7 linked regions of the Homo sapiens genome follow. The protein of the gene in region 1 purifies or fractionates together with the protein of each later gene. This does not show direct contact. Each region holds a gene or a part of one and is shown in the gene's direction. Other genes may lie near its edges.

What was found.
Region 2: the proteins of SOX6 (region 1) and RBM33 purify together in Homo sapiens (affinity purification with mass spectrometry; one large-scale study listed by BioGRID and IntAct). This does not show direct contact.
Region 3: the proteins of SOX6 (region 1) and NFIB purify together in Homo sapiens (co-immunoprecipitation; one large-scale study listed by IntAct). This does not show direct contact.
Region 4: the proteins of SOX6 (region 1) and CAPRIN1 purify together in Homo sapiens (affinity purification with mass spectrometry; one large-scale study listed by BioGRID and IntAct). This does not show direct contact.
Region 5: the proteins of SOX6 (region 1) and LSM14A purify together in Homo sapiens (affinity purification with mass spectrometry; one large-scale study listed by BioGRID and IntAct). This does not show direct contact.
Region 6: the proteins of SOX6 (region 1) and PRRC2C purify together in Homo sapiens (affinity purification with mass spectrometry; one large-scale study listed by BioGRID and IntAct). This does not show direct contact.
Region 7: the proteins of SOX6 (region 1) and POLDIP3 purify together in Homo sapiens (affinity purification with mass spectrometry; one large-scale study listed by BioGRID and IntAct). This does not show direct contact.

What each region holds. Positions count from the first base shown.
Region 1 is NC_000011.10:15,965,949-15,968,546, reverse strand, and holds the end of SOX6 (transcription factor SOX-6), read left to right. Parts: 3' UTR 1-2,098; downstream 2,099-2,598. UniProt on the Homo sapiens protein: Transcription factor that plays a key role in several developmental processes, including neurogenesis, chondrocytes differentiation and cartilage formation.
Region 2 is NC_000007.14:155,651,161-155,654,660, forward strand, and holds part of RBM33 (RNA-binding protein 33), read left to right. Parts: intron 1-3,500. UniProt on the Homo sapiens protein: RNA reader protein, which recognizes and binds specific RNAs, thereby regulating RNA metabolic processes, such as mRNA export, mRNA stability and/or translation.
Region 3 is NC_000009.12:14,304,142-14,307,641, reverse strand, and holds part of NFIB (nuclear factor 1 B-type), read left to right. Parts: intron 1-121; coding exon 122-653; intron 654-796; exon of another isoform or gene 797-890; intron 891-1,623; coding exon of another isoform or gene 1,624-1,664; exon of another isoform or gene 1,665-1,889; intron 1,890-3,500.
Region 4 is NC_000011.10:34,086,231-34,089,730, forward strand, and holds part of CAPRIN1 (caprin-1), read left to right. Parts: intron 1-74; coding exon 75-183; intron 184-3,164; coding exon 3,165-3,226; intron 3,227-3,500. UniProt on the Homo sapiens protein: mRNA-binding protein that acts as a regulator of mRNAs transport, translation and/or stability, and which is involved in neurogenesis, synaptic plasticity in neurons and cell proliferation and migration in multiple cell types.
Region 5 is NC_000019.10:34,175,504-34,179,003, forward strand, and holds part of LSM14A (protein LSM14 homolog A), read left to right. Parts: intron 1-3,500. UniProt on the Homo sapiens protein: Essential for formation of P-bodies, cytoplasmic structures that provide storage sites for translationally inactive mRNAs and protect them from degradation. Acts as a repressor of mRNA translation. May play a role in mitotic spindle assembly.
Region 6 is NC_000001.11:171,586,530-171,590,029, forward strand, and holds part of PRRC2C (protein PRRC2C), read left to right. Parts: intron 1-473; coding exon 474-692; intron 693-1,118; coding exon 1,119-1,222; intron 1,223-1,849; coding exon 1,850-1,976; intron 1,977-2,839; coding exon 2,840-3,076; intron 3,077-3,500. UniProt on the Homo sapiens protein: Required for efficient formation of stress granules.
Region 7 is NC_000022.11:42,587,384-42,590,883, reverse strand, and holds part of POLDIP3 (polymerase delta-interacting protein 3), read left to right. Parts: intron 1-3,311; coding exon 3,312-3,378; intron 3,379-3,500. UniProt on the Homo sapiens protein: Is involved in regulation of translation. Is preferentially associated with CBC-bound spliced mRNA-protein complexes during the pioneer round of mRNA translation. Contributes to enhanced translational efficiency of spliced over nonspliced mRNAs.

The sequences.
Region 1 (2,598 bases):
AGGAAAGCCCATTTACCCTCAGTAGGAAGGCAGCCTGGTCACTTGAACAGCACAGCTGAGGCTGCTTCTCTCAATTTACTCATTTTGCAAAGAATTGACCTCTACCAACTCATTAGGGAGAGGAAAAAGAATCACTTAGTAATTTTAAATCATATGAGAAGTCCTGTACCAAGTGCCAACAACTGCAAAGAAATGCAGCTAGAGGAATGTATTGAAATTACTACTGGGTCTTCCTTTTTAATGAGAAAATGACAAAAATGGTTGCTGTAGCCCTGCCTGATTTTGTACACGTTTGTCTAAGAATTGAGTTGGCACTTAAGCTCACTTCTCAAAGTATAATAATATTGTATGACCTCATTTGTCCTTTCACAAAAGCACTTGCATCATTTCCTTAAGTCATCTGCTCCCTGACATGTTTTCTTCCCTAATAAACAACTTCTGTCTGTTATTCCTGCCAATGATGTTCTGTTTCTGATGCCATATCCTATTGAGCGTGCCCCTGTACTAATATCATTGAAAATATTGATATGCAAACACATTTCCTTTTCATCCCCATTCTATCTTTCCCTTTGGGGACAGATTGCTTTCCAAAAGCTCATGAACAAATATTTGGAATGCTGGTACCTTTGGGGCAGAGGTAAGGGTGGGCGGGGTGGGGGCAGAAAGGTAATGCTTAATGCAGATAACTCTTCTAATCAGTGTCCATGGCAATATGAACGCTTGAAGAAAACTCAGTGACATATCTTGCTCAGTAGTTTCTTATTCCTGAAGAACCACAAGCATAAAGTGAGGCCTCAGTGCTGGTGCTCTTGGAGTATGGGGAATGTGCAAATATTTAACTGTTTTGTATGCTGCACATTGCAGGTCTGCTCATGTGCATTCTCCCTTTGTCTTCCTTTGTCATATGTGTTTTTGCTTTTTTGAAAGTGCAGTCTTTATTGTACCCTCCTCCAGCTTGTAGCAAATTAGAATGCTTAGCATTTATGTTCATTCATTATTGTATTTGCCATGTAAAATTTTTATTACCTTAGACAAGCTTATAAGCTGTTACTACATAACTTATCTTACTGTAACTCTTTTATTTCCCCCGACGTTGTAATTTGTTTGTGATGTATATTGTGAAATTGTATTCTATGTTAATTTAATCAGCACAATTCACTGACATGCTGGACTGACATGCTGGCTGCTGTTTCAAAGTGTAAAGTTTGTGTAGGGCTGTTGGGACAACTGCAACTCTGTTGTCAAGGTACTGTGCTTTGGTTCCTATAGCAACACTGGGTGTGGCCCTTGAATTGCTAAGGGCATTTAATACATCCTGGAGCAAATTTTAACTGCAGATTTTCTTTGTAGAAATTCTATGTATAATGCAGGTACCTACTTGGCCCATGGCTGGTAACTATTTGGGCAATTAGAAAAAAAGAAAAAAACATAAAAACTAGTGTCTATTGCTGCTTTGAATATGTTTGAAAGTCTGAAAATGTAAATAGTTTATCAAAAAAAAATCTTGTACAGTCCAGTGTAAAGTTTTTAAATGACCTTAAGGGTTGCCATCACATCTTTCTCACACTCTCCTCTTGATAATAATAATAATAAAAAGTTTGCTAAGGATTAAAGAAATGGGAAAAATAAAAAAAATCTCTTCAAATTTACAGGAATGAATCATTGTTCTTAGCTTTGTTGCATACACAAACTTCTTGGATTTTGTTGTGCAGTATTGACGTGAGATAAAGCTCAACATTGAATAATCTTTCAGTGGTACTTTTCAAAGTCTTCCCCTCCTCTGCCTCATAATTAAGGGAAAAGACAAAATTGAAAGACACACTGTCTTTATCTATCCTGGTGTATGTTGGCACCTTAGCTACTTTTTTTTTTTCCTTTTTGCACAAGGTGCTTTCCTGATATGTTCAACATGCCATCTTTGGGTGATAATGTATATGCCGTGATGGGGCTCAGGCCCCTTAGGGGAGTGTCTATAAGAACTGCCTATTTATGCTCATTTACCTCAAGACTGTCCTCTCTACCCTAATCTAGTTGTCATCACTCCATCTTTTGTACTGCTGTTGACACTTACAAATTAAAGATAAATTTTGTTTTATGACCTCTGTGTATGGCCTTGTCTGTGCCCTGCAAACTGTCCCCACCATGGGGCCCCAGCCAGCCCTGAATGTGCCACCCTCTTGCTGCTGGAGCCTGCAGAGCTCTCCTGCCCTCTGCCATTGCTTCTGCCTGGCCCAAGGGTAGGTCTCTGAAAGACATGGAACCCCTTAGCCTGGAAAGACTTGCCTGCTCTTTTCGTTGTGGAGCACACCTGGCTGCAGCAGGAAATACTTGTGGATTTAGAAGGGAGGAACGGGATACAAGGTGGATTTTTGTCAAGAGAAGATAAGAGAGCATGGCATTGCCTCTTTACCTGACTTCTTCGTGTCAGTGAAACAGCTTAGAGCCTTTTGGAGTATGAACAACTCTCAAGGGCCAGCCTCTCATCTGACGCCACCTTCTACGAGCCTAGCAGCCAAGAGTGGAAAATGCTGCACTTATGGAACCTTTCCCTCCACTGTGGTTGGCAGTAGTTGGCTGATTACTCAGTACCTTCTGCCT
Region 2 (3,500 bases), on another chromosome or scaffold:
AGCCACTGCACCTGGCCGACAGCTTCTTGAGTGTGTGTGTTGAAGGTAAATTTTTTGAGATTGAGACTCCTGAGTCTGAAGGAAATTTTAATTTTCACAACTTGATTGGTGGTTTTGTTGGGTCCAGAATTTTAGATTTGAGTTTATTTTTGTAAGATTTTTGGCGGTATTGTTGTGTTTTCTGGCATCCAGATCTGCTCTTGAGAAGTTTGAGGACATTCTGATTCCTAATCATTTTTTATGTGACCTTTTTTCATTCTAGAAGTTTTTAACAACATTTTCTCCTCTTTGTTTGACATTTCATCCCTTAAACTCAGCCATTTAGAAGGCTTCATGGCTAGGCCAGGAGGTGGAGGTTGTAGTGAGCCGAGATCGCACCACTGCACTCCAGCCTGGGCAACAGGGAAACTCTTTGTCTCACCAAAAAAAAAAAAAAAAAAAAGGGTCTAGGTTCCTGGGAAAAGAAATGAGTGTCAGTTCCTATAGATTTTAAGTCATGATGGGAACATCCAGTAGGCTGAGCTCAGCTCACTTGCCTCTTCTCGGCTACCCAAGTTTATAGAGCAAGCCTTTATAACTTCCATAATAGGAGGGGTCCTATCTCATATCAAGCAGGAATTCTATTATGATTGATTTTTAAACCCTGAATGATGAAAGTTTGTTGAAAGACAAACAAATGACCAATGAGGACTACACTTCATAAACAAAATAAAAACTTCATTTTAGGGAGAACCTCTCCTGGGGCCCGTGTAACATAGGAGATTTTTAAAACAGTGACTACAAATTATTTCTAAAGCAACATGGTGTAGGAACTCTTTCTGAAAATTTGGCTTGGCTATTCAGAACTTACTAGTTATGCTGTAAGGCTCATATGTTCACTTCGAAAGTTATTGGACATTACCTGATTTGTAGTTAATATTTAAATAAAGGATCTGGATTTCCTCATCTATAAAATAAGGAATTTTGACTATTAGTGATTTGGACTAGGAACATATTATACATGAGTGTGATATTGAGGAAAAAGAAGGTTGAGAACCTTTGGAATACAAAGGTCAGCAAACTTTTTCTGTAAAGGGTCAGATAGTAAATATTTTAGGCTTTGCAGGGCAGATGAGTTTTGTTGGAAGTGCTGAACTCCGCCGTTTACCTTGAAAGCAGCCATAGACAATATATGCCTGAATTGGAATAGCTGTGTTCCATTAAAAGCTTATTTACATACACGGGTGGTAGCTAAATTTGGGCAGAAACAGGTGGCAGGCCCTACTTGGCCCATGGGCTTTGGTTTGCTGACCCTTAGATTAGATAATTGCTAGAACCCTATCACAAGCTAATAGTCTATGTGGTATCTTATCCAAGTCGAGGATTCTGGAAAAGAAGAAGAAATAGAATGGTAAGTAAAAGTTTGTGTTAACTGTAGATGTCTGATTGCTGCATGATAGAGAATTGTAGAAATCTAGTAGATATCTTCAGTCTTGAAGGAAAATTGATCCCCCTATTAAAATAGAATGTCTTGTACAATGTTTAGGCCTTAGAAGGAGATTTTCCAGGTAAGGAGGTCATTGACCTCTTTCGTTTTGCTCAGTTAATATTTTACCCCTTGGCTTTCATGGATGTGCTGTTCTTCCTTTAAAGTTCTGGACTAATGGGGACACATTTTTTCTTCTTGGTTCTGTTTAATATGACTGCTATGAACTGGAACTTTAAAAAGTATTTGTATTCTAAAGGAAAACAGAGGGAAATGACTCAGAATATATTAAGAATATAAACAGGCTGTACAGGGTTCTTGTGTTAGCTTGCCCTGTAAGATTTTGAGTCATTATTTCACTTAGCATGATGTCTTCAAGATTCATCAGTGTCGTAGCATGTGTCAGAACTTCCTTTTTAAGGCTAAATAATATTCCATTATATATCTATACTATTTTTTTTTAAACCATATATCCTTCAATAGACACTTGAGTTGCTTCCACCTTTTGGTTATTGTAAATAATACTAATAGGAGCTTGAGTATATTAATGTGTCTTCAAGTGCCTGCTTTCAGTTCTTTTGAGTGTATACCCAGAAATGGAATTGCCACGCCAGTCCTTGGATTTAGGGGCCAGTCTTAATCCAGAATGACTTCATTTTAACTAATTACATCTGCATAGATTCTATTTCTAAATAAGGCCACATTCTGAGGTTCTGGTGGACATGCCCTTTTGGGGGATGCTGTGGTATGATAAAAAATGAATATTTTTTTCTGCCCAGGTTCCCTCGGCAGAACTTTGGAAACCCTTTGAATTTACTATCTTTTCTACACTAATGAGATGGCTTATAGCGGGGGTGGGGGCCCTAGATAGCTTTGGGGTGGGGGCTTGTCAGAAAAACTAACCCCATGTTAAGAGGGTTAGAACGTTCAGGCTCAACCCCCAGCCTCCCTCGAGGGGAGGGGCTGGAGATTGGTGGTAATCACCATTAGTCAGTGATTTAATCATCAGGTTTAGGGAGCTTCTGAGTTGGTGAGCACCTCCTCGTGCTGGGAGGGTGGTGCACCCTGACCCTTCAGACTGGCCCTGTGTACCTCTTCATCTGGCTCTTCATTTGTATCCTTTATAATAAACTGTAACAGTAAGTACGGTGTTTTCCTGAGTCCTGTGAATTGTTATAGTAATAGCAATGGGGGGAGGTGTGATAACCCCAGAATTTGTAGACTTCAGCCAGGGAGAAGTGTGAGTAGCCTGGGCACCTCATTGCAGTTGGCATCTGAAGTGGGGCAGCCTTGTGAAACTGAGCCCTTAACCTGTGGGGCCTGCCCGAACTCCAGATGATTAGTATTAGGATTGAATGGAGTTGTTGGTATTGCAGTATGATTGTGCAATTTGGTACAGTCAGCAAGTCAAACTTTTAAAAAATATTGCAAAAGATGGCTGAGTGAAGTGTAATAATACACATGCAGCATTTTAAAAACCAAACTTATTAACTTCTACCCCACCCTCAAATAAACCAGCACGTATATCCATCAATCCACAACTAATCCAGATTCAAAATACTGATGTTTTCATTGACTTCTCCTTCCTTGTTCTATTCAGTTAGTCAACATGCCTTGGAATTTCTAAATTGACAGTTTCTGGTTCATGCATTTGTCTTATTCTCCCTTCTGTTTCTTCACCGTGATGCTAACCACATTTTTTTTTCTTAATGGTTGGTTTGTAGTTACTTTGTTTTACCATTGTTTATGTTTTATCGATTAATTAGTTCTTGCTTCTTGCTACTAGATTACCTTTCCTAAACTGAGGCTGTGTTGCATATGAAGTATAGATTTCTTACGTTGCTTTTCTAGTAATGCCCCAAATCTTTACCACCTTTTCTTTCTGACTACTTCTCTCTATGAGTGTGCTTTCAACTCACCTGAACTCCTTGCTGTGCTCTAGGCTTGTGGAACTCAGCCTCTGTGCTGTTATTTCCCTGGAATGCCCATCTACTTGACAAAAATGTAGTTATTCTCAGCCTTCATCTCAGTTATT
Region 3 (3,500 bases), on another chromosome or scaffold:
TTTCATGTATAACTTTTTGTACTGAATTGGAAACGGGTTGTGGTCTTCTTTTCTTATTTTTTGAGCTTTTAAAATTAAACTGACTATGCACATCTTTTCCTCACCCCTCTGTCTTCCACAGGATGAATTTCACCCATTCATCGAGGCACTTCTTCCACATGTCCGTGCAATTGCCTATACTTGGTTCAACCTGCAGGCTCGAAAACGCAAGTACTTTAAAAAGCATGAGAAGCGAATGTCAAAGGATGAAGAAAGAGCAGTCAAAGATGAGCTTCTCAGTGAAAAGCCTGAAATCAAACAGAAGTGGGCATCCAGGCTCCTTGCCAAACTGCGCAAAGATATTCGCCAGGAGTATCGAGAGGACTTTGTGCTCACCGTGACTGGCAAGAAGCACCCGTGCTGTGTCTTATCCAATCCCGACCAGAAGGGTAAGATTAGGAGAATCGACTGCCTGCGACAGGCAGACAAAGTCTGGCGTCTGGATCTAGTCATGGTGATCCTGTTCAAAGGCATCCCCTTGGAAAGTACCGATGGAGAGCGGCTCATGAAATCCCCACATTGCACAAACCCAGCACTTTGTGTCCAGCCACATCATATCACAGTATCAGTTAAGGAGCTTGATTTGTTTTTGGCATACTACGTGCAGGAGCAAGGTAGGAGCAGATTGTTCTTTTTTCTAGCACGGCAAACACCGCCTACAAATCTCCGTAGACAGAGTATCTGGCTTGAGTTAGATGGTCCTCAAGGCCCCTAGATATCCTCCACCCTCTCTGGGTATAGTAGGGTGTCCGCTTTCACTCACATGTCCGCTGCCATGTGCGAGCCATGTAAATAGACACAGAGCTTTCGTACCTGGATAGGCTTGGATATTTAAGAAAGACCACAAAGAGGTGCGTTTTCAAGTATCTTTAAAATAATACTGTTTTTCAAAGACATAGGGTAGTCTAACAAATATAGTTCATTACACTATACTTTCTGTCGTAGGCTACATTTTTGCATCTAATCTAGTAATCTTTTCCTGATTTGAAAATATAACTTTATTTATGAATAGCCAAACCATCCTAGATAATTTTTGTATTAACCTTATTAATTAATGAGGTAGAGGGACTTTGTTTATGAACTTAGTGGTATCGCACTGAAAATAGAACTAATGTTTACTATTACAAAATGCTTAAGATAGATAATATCAAAAGTATATCTTACGTAGACCTAGATTTACTTAATTTTAATATTTCTATCATCACTTTTGATTGTGCAATATTCACTGTCGATTAAATGGAATTGAGTTATTATTTAAATTATTTATAGTATGTTCCCAGAGTTACTTGGGAACACTTAATAATGTTAGTTTACTTGTATGTAAATTCATAAAACTTACCGAGGAGGAAAGTCGCAGCGCTGCTTACAGAACAAAAAACAGAAAGTGGACTGGTTACACTGGTTTAAGATAAATCTTAAAAAGAATACAGAAACTGCATACCATACCTATTATTTAAAATACCTGAGAAGGAGAATGGTATACATTTTACCTAAATAATTAAAAAAGATGATGTTATTACTGAATATTTGAGTTAATGAAATGTTTATTATTTTTATTTTTCTTAATATATTTTCCTTAAGTAGGTAAGAATTTCTTTTCTTCAAATAAATGCATCAAGATATAGATGTCCTTGCATTACCAACAATCCATAGTAAAACAATCATTTTACAAAGCCGCATACCAAAAGTAGACTGAAGTTTGAGCTGTCACAGATGGTAGGTCATTTCCAAACTTGGCCTGGTGGGAGGAAAAATGGCCTGCAGATAGCCAGGTGACAGACTGTTACCTGAGGTTTGTTATATAAATGTGGGACTTAATAAACTGCTATGAGCTTTATTATTCAAAAAAATCAAAATTACTTTTTTGACTCTGAATTCTAGGCCCTCACTATGTGCTTTTTGTCTTGATTTTCTTGTAGCTTTGGAGATAGGCTTAAGTGTCATTTTAGAATTTTTAGTCTGATTTTAAATAATGGTGTTGGACATTGCACTTTTAGAAATATTACCTTTTCCTGAAAAAATGAAACATTGCATTTAATATTTCCATGCATTTAAGAATTACAGTCCAAATAATGATGGTTTGGGGAAAATAATATTTTTGTCCCATGTGTCCTAAAATAAAACTCAGTAACACATGACACTTATTTGATTGACAGATGTCTAGGAGGTGACACTTTAAGGTGGGCTGTATATATGTGTTGGATTGACTATAAATGTGTTGTAACTGTGTTGTGAAAGTCAAGGATGGAAGTAAAGTTTCAAAAAGTGGGTCATGTAACTTTTTAGTGCAGGGAGGGAAGATTTGCAACCACTTCACTACTGCTCACATTTTAAGTTGCTTGAAGGCTAGGTTTTGAGGTGTGCCTGCCTGCATGCACATTTACTCCTGGGGAAGGCAGCCAGCTCTCTTAGTTTTGATGAACTGACAATAAAGATTTGTAGAGATAGATTGAAAAAAGAAAAAAAACGCATAAATGCCTTCCATGTTGCACCACTGGTCATGATAACTATAAAGTTTTAAGCAACTCTTAAGAGACCATGGTTTTAGATAAAACATTGATTTTGTTGTTGGTTCAACAATCTCTATTGTAAGAACTTTTCATTATTTTATCTTGTGTATATAACTTGTATCCTCTGCTACCTGCCAGTGCATCATCTTCTCTTAACATCTGTTGGTTCTTCCTTTGAAAAACTCACGTCAGGATGCTTTTGTGTTTTCCCCTTTTCAAAATTTATATATTCTTCTTTGTCAAGTGTAGGTTAATTATGTCATTTTATAGTGCAATTGATTAAAGAAGGCAGATTTTAAAAGATAATTCTCCGGTCAGTTAGAGGGCTGCATATCGCGAGTGATGACTTTTTATTTGTCTTCTAAGTACATGATAACTCACCTAAGTCTGTTTTATAAATCAGGAAAAGAAGTATAAAGGAAAACACGAAAGAAAAATCAGAAAAGAGAAATGTAATGTTTGCAGCAGAAAGAGCAACAAAATTACGTTTCCCCCTTTTTCTCTCTCCCCACTTCTAAATGACTGGGAGAAAAACATGAGAAAGAACAGAGAGAATGCCAAAGATGGTTGCCACTGGCACCAGGATTGGCATCAGACCCTCTTTGTTTAGCTCAGGATGCCTGTGATTTGTTAGTTGGCATCCGCATTGCAGTGTGGAGTGATGTTACAATATATTGACAATTTCCAGATCTAGAAATGTCAATAGTCCTCTTGGTTATTTATACAAGATCACACACTGCATCTCTTCTGGAAGACGAAATAAAGACCAACATGTACTAAAGTTTCATTGTTGACCAACTTCCTATGCTTTTCTTTTTTCCCTCTTTCTCTTTTGGTTCAACCCACACTTTTTTTCCTTCTTCATGCCCAGCAGCCTCATCTTTCTGAAATGTGGGAAGAGTTACCAGAGCTTTGACACAAGCTATAGTGCTACATCTGCATCTGATATGG
Region 4 (3,500 bases), about 18 Mb from region 1:
TTAGTCAGACTCTGTAACAGAAAGTTTAAGTGTTTATATTATTTGACTTTATTCTATCCTAACTTAACCTGTAGGATTCAATGCTGGATTTTGAAAATCAGACACTTGATCCTGCCATTGTATCTGCACAGCCTATGAATCCAACACAAAACATGGACATGCCCCAGCTGGTTTGCCCTCCAGGTTAGTAGTGGTACATTTTTATGTGAGAGAGAAATATAAGGCCAGTACTTTCAGGTTTTAAAAAGATTGTGAAAATAAATTTTGTTTATTTTAATGACTGTTTAATTTTGACTCTTAGGTCTTTTAATTTGATAGAAAGAATGTTATTGTTCCTATGATTTGAATTAAAAATGTAGTTTATAACTGTTTATTTTTAAACTTTTCATTGGCATGTAGATATAGAAAAATATACGCAAGTTTAATGAGTTTTTATAAACTGAAAACACCTGCAGCTAGATTAAGAAATGAAACATTACCAGTACCCCAGAAACCTACGTTGTTTCCTTTCAATCACTAGTTACCCTCACCCCTAGCGATAGCAACCACTTCCGTACTTGTAACTGTAATAGACCAGTTTTGTCTGTTTTTGTAACTTTAACAAGTGAAATTTTGCTTGGCTTTTAAAATTTCAAAATTAATCTAGGAGTAAAAATAATAGAGGTGCCTTTTTTTGAATGCTTTTAGCTTTCTAGGAGAATTTCTGGATTTTATTACCTTAAAAAAATACACAGCAATGAAGTGGGTAAGGGAATATGTAAGAGGCAAAGGGAAGAGAGAAACCACAAGACAGTTTCAGACTCTTTCTGGACTTACACCATTATTTGAAGTAGTAGCACTAAATACAGTTGGTGCCTTCCATTGGGTTAAGTGGACCTTCTCTCCAGGACTATTAGTGATTGTGAGTCATCTTGGTTTTTCCCAGAACACATCAGTTTTAGTTGCACAAAAGTGGAACTAAATAAAATAACCTATTTAATGTTGCATGATGTTAAATATCATAAAATAAATTGCTGAGTAAAAGTATGTTTAATGACAGTTAATTTGGTGTAAGGTAGTTAGGATTTTTCTGAAGTAAAGGGAGCTCATATCTCTCACATTTTTTTTTTTTTTTTTTTTTTGAGACGGAGTCTCGCTCTGTCGCCCAGGCTGGAGTGCAGTGGCGCAATCTCGGCTCACTGCAAGCTCCGCCTCCCGGGTTCACGCCATTCTCCTGCCTCAGCCTCCCAAGTAGCTGGGACTACAGGCGCCCGCCACTACACCCGGCTAATTTTTTGTATTTTTAGTAGAGACGGGGTTTCACTGTTTTAGCCGGGATGGTCTCGATCTCCTGACCTCGTGATCCGCCCGCCTCGGCCTCCCAAAGTGCTGGGATTACAGGCGTGAGCCACCGCGCCCGGCTCTCACATTTCTATCAAGAGTTTTAGAAAACAGATCAAAGGTGACACCTACAAGAGAGCAATCATGGTTTTTAGTGTTCATTTTCTGAGCTCTACCAAAGGAAGAGAGTAAGTCGTTTTCTCAGCTGGGGAGTTGTGTGAAAGTCAGTATACATAGCACTGATAAAACCTGTAAGGCTATTTAGTTATTTACATAATGCTGAGTCCATTAGACTCTCCAGTGAAAATGGGTACTTTCTAAATGACTAACCAAAGATCGTCGTTTTGATTATCTGTTTAATCATTGTTGGGAAGGGAGGTGAGAGAGTGATGGGAATTGTTAAGAAGATGCATGCTGAGTTGAATATAGGCTGTTAAAAAGTATATATTATTTATTTGTTTATTTAGAGACGCAGTCTCGCTCTATCGCCAGGCTGGAGTGCAGTGGCGCATTCTTGGCTCGGCACGCTGCAACCCCTGCCTCCCGGGTTCAAGGGATTCTCCTGCCTCAGCCTCCCCAGTAGCTGAAAGTACAGGCACACACCACACTACACCCAGCTAATTTTTGTATTTTAAGTAGAGATGGGGTTTCACCATGTTGGCCAGGATGGTGTCAATCTCTTGACCTCGTGATCCACCCGCCTCGGCCTCCCAAAGTGCTGGGATTACAAGCATGAGCCACTGTGCCTGGCCGAAAAGTACATATTTTAAATTTTCTTTTTCTCTAGAAACACTTGAAATTGAAAGTTGGTTATGTTAACATATATTGAGCCGGGTATGGTAGCTCATGCCTGTAATCTCAGTGCTTTGGGAGGCTGAGGAGGGAGGATCACTTGAGCCCAGGAGTTTGAGACCAGCCTGAGCAACATAGACCTCGCCTCTACAAAAAAATTAAAAATTAGTCAAATAAAAAAGTTAGCTTGGCAGGGTGGCATGCATCTATAGTCCCAGCTACTCAAGAAGCCAAGGTGGGAGGATTTCTTGAGCCCAGAGTTTGAGACTACAGTTAGCTATGATGGCGCCACTGCACTCCAGCCTGGGCAACACAGTGAGACCCTGTTTCAGAAGAAACAAAAGGTCAAAATGGAATACTATCTGTCTGAGGTCTAGAGTATGAATAATGCCACTTTATTGTACAGCTTTAAAAGTCTTTTTTCATGGCACTGATTATTTGTTAGTGCATTCTATTAACATTTTACTTTACTTTTGGAAAAAACAAGATGAAACCAATTGTGAAAGTAAACTATTAAATAATAACCACTGCCGGTAAACCAAAATGCTCACTTGAAAGCTAAAATTTTATCTGCATTTCCCAATTTACTTTCATGATTGCTAAAAAGTTTATTTATGGTTTGGCTATAGAAATTTACCTTTAATTGCTGGGCATGGTGGTTCATTCCTATAATCCCAGCACTTTGGGAGGCTGAGGTGGGCAGATTGCTTGAGCCTAGGAGTTTGAGACCAGCCTGGGCAACATGGCGAAACCCTGTCTCTACTAAAAATACAAATATTATCCGAGTGTGGTGGCACACACCTGTAGTCACAGCTACTTGGGAGGCTGAGGTGGGAGGATCACTTGAGCCTGGGAGGCAGAGGTTGCAGTGAGCTAAGATCACATCACTGTACTCCAGCCTGGGTGACAGAGTGAGACACTCCCCCCCCCCCCCCCCCCGCAAAAAAAAAAAAAAAAAAAAAAAGCCTTTAATAGCGAAATAAAAGGTATTTAGACGCGTCTCTCTAAAAATTTAATTTTGTTTGACAAAAATGTTTTGGTCACCTTTGCAGTTCATTCTGAATCTAGACTTGCTCAGCCTAATCAAGTTCCTGTACAACCAGAAGCGACACAGGTAAGAGTGATAAAACTATTTTCTTCAGGGCCAGGTTAGGTGGCTCGTACCTATAATCCTAGTACTTTAGGAGGCTGAGATGGGAGGATCACTTGAGGTCAGGAGTTCAAGACCAGTCTGGGCAGTGTAGCGAGACACCATCTCTATTTTAAAAAAATAATTAAAAAATATTTTTTCACTTTTGTTTTAATTGGTTCCTTGGTTTCTTTCTTAGCTTATGAAAGAAAATAAGAATTTCATCAGTGTCCAAGTCTTCTGTTGGAATTCAGCAAAT
Region 5 (3,500 bases), on another chromosome or scaffold:
TTACAGGCATGAGCCACCGCACCCGGCTGCTTTTTCTTAAGCAACATGAGTTAAATGTGTAACCAGTTTGGGGAATTTGATTATGTTCGCAAAAACTGACATTATCAAACCTTTATATATTAGTCTACATGATATTATCTAATCGAAAACTACATTATAACTGTCTAGTCAATACTGGACACATTTCAGATTTCAAGATTAGAAGCAAGGAGTTCAATCTTAAAATTTTAAAATTTACATGACTTGTTGAGTAATTCGATATCAGAAAATTTCACCTTCCATTTCAAAATTTGAACGAAGAATGGTAGTCTAAAAGATTAAAGCCAAAAGTGTTTGTTTTGTTTTGTTTTCGTTTTTTTTTGTTGTTGTTTTGAGACAGAGTCTTGCTCTTGCCCAGGCTGGAGTGCAGTGGTGCGATCTTGGCTCGCTGCAGCCTCCACCTCCCGGGTTCAAGCAGTTCTGCCACAGCCTTCCGAGTAGCTGGGACTACAGGCGCCCAACACAGCTGGCTAATTTTTGTATTTTGAGTAGAGACGGGGTTTCACCATGTTGGCCAGGCTGGTCTCAAACTCCTGACCTCAGATGATCCACCCACCTTGGCCTCCCAAAGTGCTGGGATTACAGGTGTGAGGCACTGCACCCGGCCTGAAGCCAAAAGTTTATTCATGGAATTTATAATACAGTGTGTATTTGGATGTAGAGATCCCTGTTACTGTTTTTAAACTATGGATTAAGAGTTAATCTCTTTGAGTAACAGTCTTAGCATTCTCTTTTGAACTTTTTTTTTTTTAATTTCTCAGGGAGAGTGTTATTGGGAAACCTAACTACACAGGCTGAAAAGATACATAAGATAAAAATGAAATATTTTTAAACAAACATCTTTGTAACCACCACCCAGGGCAAGACAGACATTGCCAGCATCCCAGAAGCCTCCCACCACCTATATTTTCCCATCACAACTATCACCATCTTAATTTAAGCTAGATATAAATGTTCTTCTGACATTTATAGTTTTACCATATAAGTTTACATCTCTAAATAATAGAGTTTAATTTTGCCCATTTTTAACTTTATGTAAATAGGATTGTGTTGTATATATTTTATTTTTAGCTTTTATTGTTTCATAATATTCCATCATGAATATAACACAAGTTTATTCCTTCTGCCATTGTTTTGGATATTGCATTTAGATTGTTTGCAGTTTGGGGCTATTATAAACAATGCTTTTATGAACATTTCTGTTTAAGTGCACTGGTGCATGTTTATTTCGTTTTCTTGAGATTATATACTTAGAATTTGAATTGCAAGAACATGGGGAATGTTGGTCTTTATCAGGTAATGCCAGGTAGTTTTTCAAAGTAGTTGTTTAGTGGTTTTTACTTCATTTATTAGTATGTAAGAGTTCTTGTTTCATATCCCTTACCAACAACCGTACGTGGTATCATATATTTCAATTCTAGCCAATCCTGGTGGGTATGTAGTTGTATTTAGTTTTAATCATTTCCCTCATTACTAAATGGGGCTGACCAGCTTTTCATATCTGGGTGTTTGGATTTCATTTTTCATAAAATGCCTTTGAAATCTTTTCCTTTTTTAAATCGAAACACGTCTTTTTCTAGAGTTCTGTATTCTGAATATATCTCCATTGTTGGATGTATATATTGCAAACATTTTTTCCATTTAGTAGTTTCTTTAAATTAACAGAAGTTCTTCATTTTAATGTAAACATGTTCATCAGTTTTTTATGGCTAGTGTTTCTTTTTTTAAAACATCATAGAGATACTTTGATTATCTTTAAACCTTTTTGTGCTTTGCTTTTTCACATTGACGTTTATAATGCATCTGAAATTGATTTTGTGTACAATGTGAGATATTCAGAGCTTTATATTTAGTAAGGGATTCACTTGGTTTATATTGTCCATATTATAATTTAGGGCTTGGATATTATAATTTAAATATATCTGGAACTATAAACTACTCTTGAAATTTTTGGCTATTTACATTTGATGTGGTATATAATTAGGGTAACCATATGGCCTAGTTTGCCCTGGTGGAAAGTCCTTGTTTGTGCCTGCTCTGGCATAATTATTAAAAACATCCCGGCTGGGCAGGGTGACTCAGGCCTGTAATCCCAACATTTCCAAAAGGTCAAGGCCGGGGTATTGCTTGAGCCCAGGAGTTCAAAACCAGCCTCGGCAATACAGGGAGACTCCATTTCTACAAAAAATTTTAAAAAGTGCATTAGCCAAGCATGGTGGCATGCATGTCTGTCGTCCCAGCCACTTGGGAGGCTGAGGCAGGGGGATTGCTTGAGCCCAAGAGGAGCTGTGATCATGCCACTGCACTCCAGCCTGAAACATAGAACAAGACCTTGTCTTAAAAAATAACAATGATAGCCTGTAATCCCAGCACTTCAGGAAGCTGAGGCAGGCGAATCACCTGAAGTCAGAAGCTCGAGACCAGTCTGGCCAACATGGCGAAACCCCGTCTCTACTAAAAATACAAAAATTATCTGGGCGTGCTGGTGCATGTCTGTAATCCCAGCTACTTGAGAGGCTGAGGCAGGAGAATTGCTTGAACCTGAAAGGCGGAGGTTAGAGTGAGCCAAGATCACACCACTGTACTCTAGCCTGGGCAACAGAGCGAGACTCTGTCTCAAAAAAAAAAAAAACACAAAATAATAATAATAATCTGTTTTCTCTTTTGAAAATGTTTCAGTGTGGATAAGTTATCACACCACATAATCAAAAGCCTAATTGCAGAGGTGCTGTGAAATGGTCGATGTGCCTTATTTTCTGCTAGAGATGTCACAGACTAGCTTTAGTTCTAGAAAGTGAAACAGGTAAGTTTGAGGGGCTTTGATCCTCGGAACCTAAGCATATGTCAAGAAGTCATAAAGGCAACCTAGAAAGGCTTTGATGTCAATCTGCTATGTATGTTTATAGATGATCTGTGTTGCAGTTTGTTTCTGCAGTTTGTTGCAGTTTGTAGTCTGTGTCACAGCTCTGAATTTATTTTCTTCTCAGCACTGATCATGACTTACACTTAATCTTCTTTGCTTATTTGCATATGTGTTTATTGTCTGTCTTCACCTTCCCCTTCACCTCCAGACTCTGAGCTCCTGGTATGAAAGGTTGTTTAGTTAGTGAGTAAATGGAAATGATTTAGCATTTTAGCTTATTGTTCTTGTAGAAGTATCTTGGGTATACCTCCAAATAATGCTTTTCCATGTTCACAATTGCATTTCCCTATAAAATTAAATTATCCTGCCTCACATTAAGAAATCTTGAAGAATTTCAGTGAGTAGGGATGCAAGAGGATGAAATCTAGTGACATAATTAACATTATTGGGGAGGTAAACTCTTTGTGACTCAAGCTCAATTATAATTTTCATTTAAAGTTTAAAGGAAGCCTCCATTCAGGGTGTAGGAAGAAATTACACAGTGGTGACATGTATGAATATTTTATGGAATAGTTCCAGTTGTGTTTGCACCTACGTC
Region 6 (3,500 bases), on another chromosome or scaffold:
GGATGTGTTCTATGTATTTTATTTTATTTTATTTTATTTTATTTTATTTTATTTTATTTTATTTTATTTTGAGACAGAGTCTCGCTCTGTCGCCAGGCTGGAGTGCAGTGGCAGGATCTCGGCTCACTGCAACCTCCCCCTCCTGGGTCCAAGTGATTCTCATGCCTCAGCCTCCCAAGTAGCTGAGACTACAGGCACATGCCACCACATGCAGCTAATTTTCGTATTTTTTTTTTTTAGTAGAGACAGGGTTTCACCATGTTGGCCAGGATGGTCTCGATCTCTTGACCTCGTGATCTGCCCGCCTTGGCCTTCCAAAGTGCTGGGATTACAGGCATGAGCCACTGCACCTGGCCGATGTGTTCTGTTTGAAATCTTACTCAAAAGTATTTGAAGAGTTGTGTATAGTTGTATGGATATGTCTGTAGTAAACAGAAACAAATTGCTTCAGTTTCTCTTTACTTATTTTCTAGGTTACAGTACCTTTACCAGCATCGCAGCTTTCCTTGCCTAATTTTGGATCTACAGGGCAACCTCTAATTGCTTTGCCTCAGACTCTTCAGCCCCCATTACAGCATACCACTCCCCAAGCACAGGCTCAGAGTCTGAGTCGTCCTGCACAAGTAAGCCAGCCTTTCAGAGGATTAATTCCTGCTGGAACACAGCATAGCATGATTGCAACCACAGGAAAAGTAAGTAAAGAGACATTTGCACAGGTTATTTGAGAATTTAAGGTAGTGTGTTCAGATATATGCATCTGTGTTATCTAAAAAACTAAAATGCGTCAGTTTTTACCACCCTGCAAAAATCTCAAACCCCAGTATATTTACATTTTATCTATTTACTTTTAATGTGTTTGGCCCCATCTAGTTTTTACCTAATAACAAAGAATTCACAAATTTATTGGAAGAATTGGATTTATAGTGTCTCTTGGGCTTATTTAATTATAAGTCTGTTTGGTCAGGTAATTCCATAATACTTGAAGCCTAACTATAGGAGTTTTGTACTAAGGTTCTTTGCCCTTTCCTAGATTACGTCTTCACGTATAGGACATGTAAACACAGCACTTAGCTTGTGGAATTAAAGAAATGTTAAGTTTATTTTATGCTTCTCCTCAGATGTCTGAAATGGAACTAAAAGCCTTTGGAAGTGGCATTGATATAAAACCAGGCACACCTCCAATCGCTGGTAGAAGCACCACACCAACATCTAGTCCCTTCCGGTAAAATGGGCATTTAAATTTGCTTATGAAATTCCAATTTGGTCACTATTTGTTAAATACTTATCAGTCCTGTGTGACATAATCCCTTTTCCAAGCAGAAAAGGAATTATTAAGACATTCTTTTTGATAGTTTTGTCTAAAATGTTAAGCTTTTAAATTATTTAAAATGTGTTTATTGTACTATATTTTAAGTAAATTCTTTTGTTACAGAGCAAACCTTTTTTTCTTTTATTTTTTTTGAGACAGAGTCTCACACTGTTACCCAGACTAGAGTGCAGTGCCATGATTATAGCTCACTGCAACCTCAAACACCTGGGCTCAAGCAAGCCTCCTGCCTCAGCCTCCTGAGTAGCTGGGACTACATACACGTGCCACCACACCTGGCTAATTTTTAAAAAAATATTGTCCAAGCTGGTCTCGAACCAGCCAATCTAACTGGTAACTGGTATCCTTTCTTACCTCTGCTCCTCCAATGTCTCTCTTCTACCAGAATGTTTTGGTAATCATCATAGTAAATTTTTACCAACTACCAAGTATGATGAAAATACCAAGAACGGTGTTTGCAAAAATCTAACAGCATTATTTACTTGGTATTACTATACTGACTAGTAATGGCTTCTTTCCAAGGGCTACTTCTACAAGTCCGAACAGCCAGTCCAGCAAAATGAACAGCATTGTCTACCAGAAGCAGTTCCAGTCAGCCCCTGCCACTGTGAGAATGACACAACCATTTCCTACACAGTTTGCACCCCAGGTGGGCAGACATAATTAAGAAATGAGTATTATTTACTTAAAAATAGTTGCTAATCTGATAAATTATTATCTTGCCTTATGTTAACCAGTTAAGAAGTACAGTTTTTAATAAAAAATTGTTTCTGAATTTAACAATAAATTTATTTTATAAAGATAGTCTGCGATTTATAGCCAGACATGGTAATTGTTTAGTTCTAAAGCAGACAAGAGAAATAGTTAAAAGATTCCCCACACAGCTCTGATAATGAGTCCTTTTCCTTTTAACTTTTTTTAAGGAGTTGACTTTTCAGCGAAGGGTCCCAGTGCTTGAAGTTTTCTAGGTTTAAAGTTGTTTTTTGTTGTTGTTAAGATATTTATGTGCAATTGAGATAAAATTTCCAAAAAGATGTTTTAATATATGTAAAAAATGTTGGCTTCTCTTCCCCTTGCTGATCGTATAAAAGGACTAAGAACTCTCACAAACTAGAACTGGTTCCTGAGAAATTCACATTTGTTGAATTAGTATTGATTTTATTTATCTTCAGATTACATTTGTTACAGGTGTGTGCCTTTTCTGCAACTACCTTTTGAAAAGATAGCCTAATTAAAAGTCTTTCTATCCCCCCTTCAGAATTTACAACTGAGATGCTAGGACCAACTGAAGTGCCATAGCATGCTTTGCCTAGTTTTTCTGTTAAACTCTCCAAGCATGGCCTGTTTATTCCTTGTCCTTGTTAATGGAATGGCACAATCTGTACACTTCCTTTCACTGGTAGGATGGGCACAGATTTACTCTGGGATGAGCCAACCTGGTCTAGTTGGCAGTTTTTTTTTTTTTTTTTTTTTTAACAGTTCAATGTTGTATGTTTTGTTTTTTTCACTCAGATTCTCTCCCAGCCTAACCTGGTCCCTCCATTGGTAAGAGCCCCACATACTAACACCTTCCCAGCGCCTGTTCAGAGGCCACCAATGGCACTGGCCAGTCAGATGCCTCCTCCGCTGACCACAGGCCTCATGAGCCATGCTCGTTTGCCACATGTAGCCAGGGGTCCTTGTGGATCACTATCTGGAGTCAGAGGTAATCAGGCCCAGGCTGCGTTGAAGGCTGAACAAGACATGAAGGTTAGTACAGTGTTAACAGCCAACAGATCAAGAATCTGTCTCTGAACCATGTCTTAAAATGCCTCTGGACCCATAACTGTATATCCAGGCATTCATTGTCTTAGCAGACTTAACCAAGCTAACTACTTTTATTCATTCCCCCTTTTTTTTCTTTTTTTTCCCCCATTCCCATTCCTTTCATCTTTTTTTTCTTTTTGTTTCTTTTTCTTTTTCTTTTTTTTTGCAACTGTAGTCAGGAAATGAATTAATGTCTTAAACTGTGGCCAAATGAATTGTTATCAAATAAATATTTGAGGGAGATCTGAGTTTAGATGCACACTTTTTTTTGGAATAGCAAAGAAGTAATATCAATTATTATAGACTTCCCCATTTTCTTTCTTTTTTTTTTTTTTTTTAATATATATTTTCTTCCCCCCTTTCCCCT
Region 7 (3,500 bases), on another chromosome or scaffold:
GCCGGGCTGGTCTCAAACTCCTGACCTCAGGTGATCTGCCCACCTCGGCCTCTCAAAAGTGCTAGGATTATAGGCATGAGCCACTGTGCCCAGCTATCTTTGGAGAAATGCCTGTACAGAATCTTTGTCTGCTTTTTAAATACTGAGTTGTAGAAGTACTTTACATATTCTTAAGTCCCTTATCAGATAAGTGATTTACCAATATTTTCTCCCATTCTGTAGGTTTATTTCTGCTTTTTAATGTATTCATATGCAGTATAAGGACTTTTTGGTTAACAGCAGACCACATATATGACAGTGGGCCCATAACATTATAATACCATATTTTTACTGTATTTTTTCTACGTTTAGATGTACAAATACAGTTGCCTACTCTACTCAGTAGAGTAACATGCTGTACAGCCGGGTGTGGTGGCTGAAGCCTGTAATTCCAGCACTTTGGGAGGCTGAGGCAGGAGGATCGCTTGAGCCTAGAAACTTGAGACCAACCTGTGCAACGTGGCAAGACCCTGTCTCAAAAAATAAATTAGCTGGGCGCGTGGTGGCGTGTGCCTGTAGTCCCAGATGCTGGGGAGGCTGAGGTGGGAGGATCACTTGAGCCTGGGAAGTTGAGGCTGTAGTGAGCTGTGATCGTGCCACTGCACTCTGGAATGTATTCCCATGGTTAAATGATACATGACTGTATGTGCATTTACAGCTATATATTCTAAGCATGGCTGTAACTGCATTCCGTGTTTTGGTATATCATGCCTTCATTTTCATTCATCTTGAATTATTTTCTAATCTCCCTTGTGATTTCTCCTTTGACCCATTGGTTATTTAGGATTGTTTCAATTTCCATATATTCATGAATTTTCCAGATTTTCTTTTCTTCTATGAGTGTTTAAGGAAAATATGTATTTTCTTGTTGTTAGGTGGAATGTTCTGTACATGTCTATTATGTCTTGTTGCTTTGTAATGTTTAAGTGCGTTTCATTGTTGATCTGCTTGGTTCTATCTAGTATTGAAAGTGAAATACTGAGGTTCTGTTTTTTTTTTTTGATACGGAGTCTCCCTCTGTCACCCAGGCTGGAGTGCAGTGGCATGATCTCAGCTCACTGCAACCTCTGCCTCCCGGGTTCAAGCAATTCTCCTGCCTCAGCCTCCCAAGTAGCTGGGATTACAGGTGCCCACTGTCACGCCCAGCTAATATTTGTATTTTTCGTAGAGATGGGGTTTCACTGTGTCAGCCAGGATGGTCTTGATTTCCTGACCTCATGTTGGCCAGGCTGGTTTTGAAGTCCTGACCTCAAGTGATCCGTCCACCTGGGCTTCCCAAAGTGCTGGGATTAGAGGTGTGAGCCACTGCACCCGGCGAGATCTTTATTACTGTTGGTCTGTTCCTTTCACTTCTGTGTATTTTTATTTTATATATTTGAGGTTCTGTTGTTACTTGCATATATGTTTGATTGTTTTCTTCCTGATGAATTGACCCTTCAGTCAAATTTAAATCTCTCTTTACCTCTAGTCACTTTTTTTGTTGTTTTAAAGTATATTTCATTTTATATTACTAATAGCTAATAAGCTAATAAGTAAAAGACCAGCTTTCTTAGGGTTGCTATTTGAGTGATATATCTTTGTTCACTTTTTTTTTTTTTTTTTGAGACGGAGTCTCGCTCTGTCGCCCAGGCTGGAATGCAGTGGCATGATCTTGGCTCACTGCAACGTCTTCCTCCCAGGTTCAAGCGATTTTTGTGCCTCAGCCTCCTGAGTGGCTGAGACTACAGGTGTGCACCACCACACTCAGCTAATTTTTAGTATTTTTAGTAGAAATGGGGTTTCTGCCATGTTGGCCAGGCTGCTGTCAAACTCCTGGCTTCAAGTGATCTGCCCATCTCAGCCTTGCAAAGTGCTGGGATTACAGGCATGAGCCACCAAGCCTGGCCCACTCTTACTTTCAATCTTTTTCTCTCATCAACTGTAAAAATGTGTTTCCTAGGCTGGGCACAATGGCTCACTCCTGTAATCCGCCAGGCGGATCACCTGATTGGGAGTTCGAGACCAGCTTGACCAATATGAGGAAACCCCATCTCTACTAAAAATACAAAATTAGCCAGGTGTGGTGGTACATGCCTGTAATCCCAGTTACTCCGGAGGCTGAGGCAGGATAATCGCTTGAACCCAGGAGGCGGAGGTTGCCGTGAGCCGAGATCGCACCATTGCCCTCCAGCCTGGGCAATAAGAGCGAAACTCCATCTCAAAAAAAAAAAAAAAGAAAGAAAGAAAAATGTGTCACCTATAGAGAGTGTATAGTTAGATCTTACTGGTTTTTTTTTTATTTGAATTCAATCTGACAATCTGTCTTTGGATTGGATTATTTAATCCATTCATATTTAATATTGATAATTAGGTTTATTTCTTCCATTTTACTTTTTTTTTTTTTTTTTTGAGGTGGAGTCTCGCTCTGTTGCCCAGGCTGGAGTGCAGTGGCATGTGGTCTCTGCTCACTGCAAGCTCTACCTCCCAGGTTCACGCCATTCTCCTGCTTCAGCCTCCTGAGTAGCTGGGACTACAGGCGCCCGCCACCACACCCAGCTAATTTTTTGTATTTTTAGCAGGGACGGGGTTTCACCATGTTAGCCAGGATGGTCTCGATCTCCTGACTTCGTGATCCACCCGCCTCAGCCTCTCAAAGTGCTGGGATTACAGGCGTGAGCCACCGCGCCCGGCCCCATTTTACTTTTTTGTTCCTCTTCAGTGGCTTTTCTTTCACATTTTTTCCCCAATATTTTAATTCCTTTAATGATGTATTCACTAACTTAACTCGAGTAAGATATGGAAATGTTACTCCCACATGGCCCTGTTCCTTCTTCCTCTTTTTTGTGCTATTACCGTTACACATGTTATGCTTTGTATACAGTGGGAGTGTGGTCTTCCTAGTGCTTCATCCTTTGTAGACAGAGTAGAAGCCTGTACATAATGCTTTTGATCATCTTTTCACTGAATTTGATAGCATAAACCTTTTCCCTTACTACTTGGATGGCTTCACATTGAGTCTCGTTTCTCCCTCACTTCCCACTCATCTCTTCCTGTATGAAGCAAGGTTTGTGGCCACTTTGCCTCTTGGTGCTCCACTGCTGAGGTTTCCTCACGCCCTGGGATTTTCTTAGTGTCTGGCTTGACTGGAACCTAGCAGCCCCATCTCCATCTGTGGAGCCAGAACTGCCAGTGGTGGGTGCTTTGACCATTGATAATGGAGGTACAGCCCTTGTCCTCTTGTGTGAGGAGCCGAGGTCTCATAGCAGAGCCTTTTTCTTTCTTTGGTTTTTCAGGGCAGCCGATGAAGTGCAACCTTCACATGAATGGGAATGTTATCACCTCAGACCAGCCCATCCTGCTGTGAGTTCCAAAGGCGGGGTGCTGGGGAGAGGCAGCTCCGTCCATCTCTTTTTGTTCTAATGGGTAAACTGCCTGCATCACAGCTCCCCTTCATCCCCCCATTCCGTTTCCTCTGTTCTAAT